Linked DNA regions of Homo sapiens: region 1 is linked to region 2. Evidence: fine-mapped expression QTL. A gene starts in region 2. The other region holds a variant in brackets. All regions are shown on one strand. Distances are from middle to middle.

Evidence for each region. PIP is the estimated chance that this variant, and not a neighbour inherited with it, causes the effect. A credible set is the group of variants that fine-mapping cannot tell apart.
Region 1: its variant is the best candidate, but not a certain one, in a credible set for the expression of ZNF792 in breast (GTEx, PIP 0.53).

The regions. Positions count from the first base shown.
Region 1 is chr19:34,941,365-34,945,758 of GRCh38, forward strand. It overlaps ZNF30 (zinc finger protein 30), which reads left to right. Exons shown (of 5, transcript NM_194325.3): 5 at 1,859-3,804. The coding sequence ends at 3,474. Among named protein-coding and RNA genes, the nearest start is that of ZNF30, 17 kb to the left of the region's middle. The variant A/G (reference allele first, on the strand shown) is at 1,970.
Region 2 is chr19:34,961,898-34,966,291 of GRCh38, forward strand. ZNF792 (zinc finger protein 792) reads right to left here and starts at 2,332. Exons shown (of 4, transcript NM_175872.5): 1 at 1,733-2,332. The coding sequence starts at 1,765. It overlaps LOC124904699 (a long non-coding RNA gene), which reads left to right and starts at 1,529. Exons shown (of 2, transcript XR_007067236.1): 1 at 1,529-1,776. RefSeq lists silencers at 1,674-1,723, 1,834-2,093.

The DNA of each region.
Region 1 (4,394 bases), 21 kb before region 2:
AGTGATTCTCCTGCCTCAGCCTCCCAAGTAGCTGGGATTACAAGTGCCCGCCACCATGCCCAGCTAATTTTTGTATTTTTAGTAGAGACAGGGTTTTGCCATGTTGGCCAGGCTGGTCTTGAACTCCTGACTTCATGATCTGCCCACTGGTTTCCCAAAGTGCTGGGATTACAGGCGTGAGCCACTGCACCCAGCCTGACTGAAGTTTTTTGACACAAACTCAGGTCCAGTTTCTCTCCTCTTTGAATTAAGTTATCTAAAGGTCTCTTTTTCTGACAAGGGGGATGAATGGGCCACAGTGATCCTAGGAGATAACAGGAACCATCCTAAAGGCAGGTATTGAGTTCAGTGAGTTAACATATCTAATCCAGTTTTGCAGTTGGTTTTTGTGTACAAACCCAGTGCTTTAGTGGCCACCCCAGTGATCTCGTCCTATGGGCTTATCAAATAATATGGCAATATTTTAAAAGGTGGTAAACAGTTTTGTCTCAATATATCAAAGGAGGCAATGTGTATCTTATCAGCAGATATCTAATGTCTGGCCGTGCTCCTCATTAAAAGACTGTTTACTAGATTACAGTGATAATGGTCCAACCCCACATTATTGAGTATGTTTCTCCTTGTGACTAAACAATAATCTGTGTGATCTTAGTTTATTCTCAAGAAGTACACGTTTATTCAGTTTAGCAGTATATCTTGTCATGGTTTTAACAACAAATGATAATTCTCATTGGAATTATAAAATATCATTCTTTGTATGGAGATATTTTATTACGATTATTTCTTTTGTATAGAAGGCCGGACTCATTGGCTCACACCTGTAATCCCAGCACTTTGGGAGGGTGAAGTGGGAGGACGACTTGAGCCTAGGAATTGGAGACCAGCCTGGGCAATGTGGCAAGACCCCATCTCTATAAAAATTACAAAAAAATTAGCTGGACATGGTGGCACACACCTGTAGTCCCAGCTATCCAGGAGGCTGCGGTGGGAGGGAATCACCTGAGCCTGGGAGGTTGAGGCTGCATTGAGCTGTGGTTGTGCCACTGCACTCCAGCCGGGGCAAGAGTGAGATCCTATCCAAAAAAAAAAAGAAAAGAAAAAAAGAAAAAGAAAACCAGTAGGAAACCAAAGAATGAAGTGCTAGAAAGTAAAGACATGGACGTCCTTAGACAAAGTTAGCAGTTTACCATATTCCTGATAAAGTGACATTTTATTTTAAACATGGATAGGATAAGAAAGCTCCAGTCTACAAACAAAACATGCCAGAAGATTTTTAGGCGATGATGCCACCTGCACATGGAACCAAAAGGTGAGAAAATTTGTAAGAACGTCAAGGTGCTAAAAGGGGGAAATTAGGTCAGTATGGGACAGAGGGAGTTGTGTCTTGATATGAGGTCTGAGAGGTGAGCAGGGACAATATTATCTGTGGAAAGATACATGGATTTTAATGTAAGCGCCACAAGAAACCCCTAGAAGGAACAATAAAATATGGATTATAAAAATTTCATCTGCATCAGAAACATTTGTTAGAAAGGTTGACAGTATTGATGTCCAGGAACTTCCCCTATGTCTGATTCAGAGGGGCGGGATGCTGCTTGAACATCCATTTTTTAACAGGCTCTTCAAAGATTATTATCCACACCTAAATGAAAACTGTTTCACTAATCACCAACCTTACTATTTTACATAAACACTTGTTAATCTCTGCATTCCTTTTTTTTTTTTTGAATTTCATAATGGTGTTTTAATATTACTGAGCTATTTATTTCTAGTTGGTGTTATTTTCAGTTTTTCTCTTTTCTTCCCTAGAATTTTTTTTCAAATAGAAAAATAAGATATTTTTAAAATTTTCTTTCAGATTTGCAGTTGGAAGATGATACAATCGGCTGTAAAGAAATGCCCACCTCTGAAAACTGTCCATCTTTTGCTCTACATCAGAAAATAAGTAGACAGAAACCACGTGAATGTC[A/G]GGAATATGGAAAGACCCTTTGTCAAGACTCAAAGCCTGTTCAACATGAAAGAATACATAGTAGTGAAAAACCCAACAGATGTAAAGAATGTGGGAAGAACTTTAGTAATGGACATCAACTCACCATACATCAGAGATTGCATGTTGGTGAGAAACCCTATAAATATGAAAAATGTGGGAAGGCCTTTATCAGTGGCTCAGCCTTTGTTAAGCATGGGAGAATTCACACTGGTGAGAAGCCACTCAAATGTAAGCAATGTGGAAAGACTATTAGTGGTAGCTATCAACTTACAGTACATAAGAGTATTCATACTGGGAAGAAACCATATGAGTGCGGGGAATGTGGGAAAGCTTTTCTAGTATATGGAAAGCTTACCCGGCATCAGAGTACTCACACTGGTGAAAAACCCTTTGGGTGTGAGGAGTGTGGGAAGGCCTTCAGTACCTTTTCATACCTGGTTCAACATCAGCGAATTCATACCAGTGAAAAACCTTACGAATGCAAAGAATGTGGGAAGGCCTTTAGCACTAGCTCACCCCTTGCTAAGCATCAGAGAATTCATACTGGCGAGAAACCCTATGAATGTAAGGAGTGTGGGAAGTCCTTCACTGTGTATGGACAGCTTACTCGACATCAGAGTATTCATACTGGTGAGAAACCTTTTGAATGTAAGGAATGTGGAAAGGCCTTTAGACTTAGTTCCTTCCTTCATGCACATCAGCGAATTCATGCAGAGATAAAGCCCTACGGATGCAAGGAATGCGGGAGAACCTTCAGTCGTGCCTCATATCTTGTTCAACATGGAAGACTTCACACTGGCGAGAAGCCCTATGAATGTAAGGAGTGTGGCAAGGCCTTTAGTACTGGCTCATACCTTGTTCAGCATCAGAGGATCCATACTGGGGAGAAACCCTATGAATGTAAGGAATGTGGCAAAGCCTTTATTAGTCGCCATCAGCTTACCGTACATCAAAGGGTTCATACTGGAGAGAAACCCTATGAGTGTAAGGAATGTGGCAAGGCCTTCAGAGTGCACGTACATCTCACACAGCATCGGAAAATTCATACTGATGTAAAGCCCTATGAATGTAAGGAATGTGGAAAGACTTTTAGTCGAGCCTCGTACCTTGTACAACATAGCAGAATCCATACTGGTAAGAAGCCCTATGAGTGTAAGGAGTGTGGCAAGGCCTTCAGTTCTGGCTCATACCTTGTTCAGCATCAAAGAATTCATACTGGGGAGAAACCCTATGAATGTAACAAATGTGGGAAAGCCTTTACTGTTTATGGACAACTTATTGGACATCAGAGTGTTCACACTGGTGAGAAACCTTTTGAATGTAAGGAATGCGGGAAGGCCTTTAGACTTAATTCATTCCTTACTGAACATCAGCGGGTACACACTGGTGAGAAACCCTTTAAATGCAAAAAATGTGGGAAGACCTTTAGATACAGTTCAGCCCTTAAAGTGCATCTGAGAAAACATATGAGTGTTATACCCTAAGAGTCTGAGGAGTGTGGGAAGTGCTTCGTGTGTGGCTCAAACATTGTTGAACATCGGGGAATTTATGCTGGTAGGAAACTTTCAAATGTGAAGAATATTGGCAGGTCTATTCTCATCTTATAATTCATAATATAACTCAGAAAACATAAGAATATTCCTTTGTCATTTATAGGTTTGTAATACCAATATTTATACTGGTGGACCATTCAGAAAAAGTGGGAAACGTTATTACTTAATGGTTACAGCACTGACAGCATGAACTTTTATATGATGCATTTATTCTAATGTGATTGTATGAACAAGTGAATAAAAAACCTTGGACCTCCTAAACCACTGCTGAACTTCAAATAATTCATTATTTTTTAAAACCAGTTAACAATGTAATGAAAGCCTTTAGCCATGGCACTCACGTTAACTATCATCATTGTTATTCCACTGCCTTGCAGCCAGTTAGATATTAGGCACTACACTTATCACCTTACAGCATTGTTTTAAAATGGTGATAATAGAACCTACATTCTTATTAAAAAAAAAAAAAAAAAGCCAGGCTTGGTGGCTGAAGCCTGTAATCCCAGCACTTTGGGAGGCTGAGGCAGGCGGATCACGAGGTCAGGAGATCAAGACCATCCTGGCTAACACGGTGAAACCCCCATCTCCACTAAAAATACAAAAAAAAATAGCTGGGTGTGGTGGCGGGCACCTGTAGTCCCAGCTACTCAGGAGGCTGAGACAGGAGAAAGGCATAAACCTGGGAGGTGGAGCTTGCAGTGAGCCAAGATCATGCCACTGCACTTCAGCCTGGTGACAGAGCTAGACTCTGTCTCAAAGAAAAAGAGAAAAATTGAGACCTCAATTAAACTGGGCATCTGAGCTGGGCACAGTTCAAATGGGAGGTCGGGAGGCTGAGGTGGGAGGTTCAC
Region 2 (4,394 bases):
CTCACTGCAATATTACCTCCTCTACTGCTAAGCCTCAGCATCCATCTCATTCATGTCTACACTCTTTGGGATGATCTGGCCACCTGCCAGACCCTCTGATACACCCACATAGCCCCTCCATCACCACCATGACCACTACTGTTCCTCACCTGTCTTTATGATGCCAAACAAGCCACAGTCCCCAAGCAAGAACCCTGCTCTCAGTTTTCCAGCCCCACCTTCCTCTTTTTTTTAACATCATTGTCACCATGACCTGAAGTTTCACCTCCTAAATCTCACACACAGCTACACTCCCGTCCACACACCAGATGTCACATTTTGGATGTTTCTAACTGTTGAAATAAACAAAGACCAATGAAATGAGAAAAGCCAAGGCTACTTACTCAAAGCTCACTATAGCAAGAGAGACTCAATGCAAGCCGGGAGTGGGAGAGTTTTATAGCAAAAGAAAAGGAAGGCTTCAGGCGTGCCCTGGTTGGAGGCTCCTGTTCGTAGGTGGGTGAACTAGAAGTGGGCATCCTATGTGATTGGTTAGGGTGCGTATCTGCCTTTCTCTGGTTGTTCTTAAATCAGAAGCAGGAGCAAAAATGAGGAAAGCTGTCTGTTATTAATCAAACCCTGGCCATTTGGGACTGCTCATTACAGAAGTTATTGTTTTTACTTCCTGGATTGTCAGTCCAGATAGCAATCTGGCTTCCTGTGGGTCTGACAGACAGCAGGCTGGCTTCCTGCTGTATGGGTTGTTTATTGTAGATAAGGGGGTTGGTTTCCTGGGCAGGTTCTGGGGCAGAGTTCTATTTGTATACATGATCTGGCCATTGTTCGAATGAATATCCAGTCTCTCATTACCTTAACAACTCCCTCAGAACACCCGAACTGTGTGTTCAGCGGCCCACTCTTCAACTCCATTTGGGGGTCTCTGGGACATCACAGGCTCAACTTGGCCAAAACCTAACTTCTACTGCTTCCATGGAAAATTCCTCCTAAAACCAACTTCTCAGTTCATAAAGCTGGATTCATCAAACCAAAAACCATGGATTCTTCCCTCCTCTTTCTCACCCTCCACATCGGAAAATTTGGTCAGCTTGACTTAAAAGACATCAAGTTCCCAATCACTTCCTCTACCTCCAGTCCTCACTCTGGTCCGGCCAGCCGCAGCACTGGCCTGGGCTATTCCATTAGGCTACTCCTTGGCATCCCTGCTTGCGGCTCACTCCATATTCAGTTCTCCACTGTGCATCCACAGGGAGCCTGTTAAGACCTGAGTCACAGCATCTTCCTCCTCTGCCCTAAACCTTCCATGGCTCCCAACACCCTCAGAACAGAGGCCCAGCTCTGCCGTTCTGAGCTGTCTTCAGCCCACCTGCTCTCTGGTTCCAGCAGACATAATATTAATAACACTGACCTGGGTGGGGTTCCTTGAACACTCCCAACTCAGTCTCCACACCGTGCCCCACCCCACCCCCAAGCTTTTGCGCACGCTGGTTCCTGTGCCTACAAAGCCCTTTCTCCCTCCATCCCATTACATTTCAGCAACGGAAGCCACTTTATATAAACCCTGCCCTGATTCAGGATCCTAGCTGGGAGCAACTCCCTTCCAGGGTCCCCTGACTCAAAAGCAAGGAAATGGGAAAGGCGAAAAGTCCTAGAACAAAGCCATCTTTTGCGTCTCAACACCGAGAACAGAAGCGTGGGGGGCCGACAGCGAAGGGCCTAACGTCCAAGCACTCACCTGCGCGGGGTCCCGCAGCGCCGCCGCTGCCATCGGAGTCTGTGGTCAGAGCAGGGCCCCACGGTGCGGGAAACCACGGGGCGGGGGTAGGGGGTCTCGCAGGCTGAGGCTACCACCCACCTGGCCGTGCCCCAGACGAGGTGTGACCCCGGGCTGAGGGTCGCACTCCTAGCCTCAGTCTCCCCCGTGCAAAATGCGCAAGGGGCCCGGGGCGCAGGCTCCGGGGGCGCCGAGAGCGCGCAGCTCCGCTGGGTACCCCCGTTGCAAGGGGTCACGGCTGGTGCAAAGGCGCGGAGGGGGTCCCGGCCTCACTGTCCCCCTCGCGGTCCGGGAAAGCCGGCGGGGCAGCTTCACGGGCGTAGCCCCAGCCGCCCCGCCCCCAACTCGGGGTCCCCAGCTCCTGGGGACTCAGCCTCCCCGCCGGGAAATGACCTGCGAGGCTGCAGTGCAGGAAGTTCCGGCCCCCACCGTGGCGGCCGGGAGAGTTGCCCTCTCCCGTACTGTCATTGGCCTGGCGCCAGCCGCTGGTGCACAGGCAGGGCCTGGGGATCGCGAGTTTCTGCCCAGCCTCTCGTCAGGCTGAGGGTCCAGGGCGGGAAGGAGAGCGGATCTCGTCGGGTCTCCACCGCCGCCGCCTGCAGCCCTCGGGCCTTCCCCTTAAAGGGGCCGCTCCCGAGCCTGCAGCCGCCCGCGCTAAACCCCGCCCACCCTCCGAGGTCCAGGAGGAGAGCCCCAGTGCTCTTCCTGCGCGTGTGGGCATCGGCCAGCCGCTTCACCCCTAAGGGACCTAAATTCACACTGGAAAATGGGGATAGTACCCAATGGGCGGGGTCTTTGCGTTGTAATATTAAATGTCGCTCTGATTCAGGGCTTCTCAAACCAGCAACATCAGCATCACCTGGGGACTGGCTGAAAATGCAGGTTCTGGGGCAACAACTTAAATCTAAGGACTCAGAAATTCTGGGGATGGGATTCAGCCTTCTCTACTTTTTGCGGGGGGGGCGGGGGGGATGGGTCTCGTTCTGTTGTCCAGGCTGGAGTGCAGTGGCCTGATCATAGCTCACTGCAGCCTCCATCTCGGGCTCAAGCTATCCTCCTGCCTCAGCCTACCAGGTAGATGGGATACAGGCGTGCACCATCATACACAGCTAATTTTAAAATTTTTTGTAGAGACTGGATCTCCCTGTGATGCCTAGGCTGGTCTCAAACTCCTGAGCTCAAGTGATCCTCTCACCTCGGCCTCCCAAAGTGTTGGGAATTGCAGGAGTGAGCCATGGTGCCAGGCCTCCTTCTCTGTTTTAACAAGCCCTCTGGGGACTCCAATGCTGGCTCCAACTTTACAGCAGGGACTCTCATTGAAATCCAGTAAATAAAATGGGAAAAATAACACTACATTGTTGCAGGAAGTCAGGGACCCCGAACGGAGGGACCTGCTGAAGCCGTGACAGAAGAACATTAATTGTGAAGATTTCATGGACATTTATTAGTTCCCCAAATTAATACTTTTATAATTTCTTATGCCTGTCTTTACTGCAATCTCTGAACATAAATTGTGAAGATTTCATGGACATGTATCGCTTCCCCAATCAATACTCTTGTGATTTCCTATGCCTGACTTTACTTTAATCTCTTAATCCTGTCATCTTCGTAAGCTGAGGATGTATGTCATCTCAGGACCCTGTGATGATTGCGTTAACTGCACAGATTGTTTGTAGGGCATGTGTGTTTGAACAATATGAAATCTGGGCACCTTAAGAACAGGATAACAGCGATTTTCAGGGAACAAGGGAGATAACCTTAAAGTCTGGCTGCCTGTGGGACGGGCAGGACAGAGCCATATTTCTCCTATTACCAAAAACGGGTAAGAGAAATATCGCTGAATTCTTTCCCCAGTAAGGAATATTAATAATTAACAGCCCTGGGAAAATAATGCATTCCCAGGGCAGTGCCTCTAAAATGGCTGCCCTGGGAGTGTCTGCCTTATGCACATGTAGATAGGGATGAAACACACCCTAGTCTCCTGCAGCGCCCCCAGGCTTGCTAGGATTAGGAAATTCCAGCCTGGCGAACTCTAGTCAGACCAGTTCTCTGCTCTTGAACCCTGTTAAGATGTTTATAAATGACAATGCGTGCACAGCAGGACATGGAAGCTCATGAGTGATTCTAGTTTTGCCCTGACCTTGTGATCTCGCCCTGACCTTCTGCCTTGTGATCTTTTGTTGCCCTTAAAGCATGTGATCTCTGTGACCCACACCCTATTCGTACACTCCCTCCCCTTTGAAAATTGCCAATAAAAACTTGCTGGTTTTATGGCTCGGGGGCATCACGGAACCTGCTGACATGTGATGTCTCCCCCAGACACCCAGCTTTAAAATTTATCTCTTTTGTACTCTTTCCCTTTATTTCTCAGACCAGCCGACACTTAGGGAAAATAGAAAAGAACCCACATTGAATTATCGGGGGTGGGTTCCCCCGATACTACATGTCATATGGTGAAACCACCTTTGTAAAAATTATAACTGAGAAAATTATGACAGTGAGAGATCTGACCTAACCAACTCCATCTTGCTTCTAACCTCCAAGCTGTCCTTGTTCGTTCCTGAGCATAGGCCTAACTAACTTTGGGAGAAACTCAGTTTACAGTTTAACTTTGAAGCAAAGA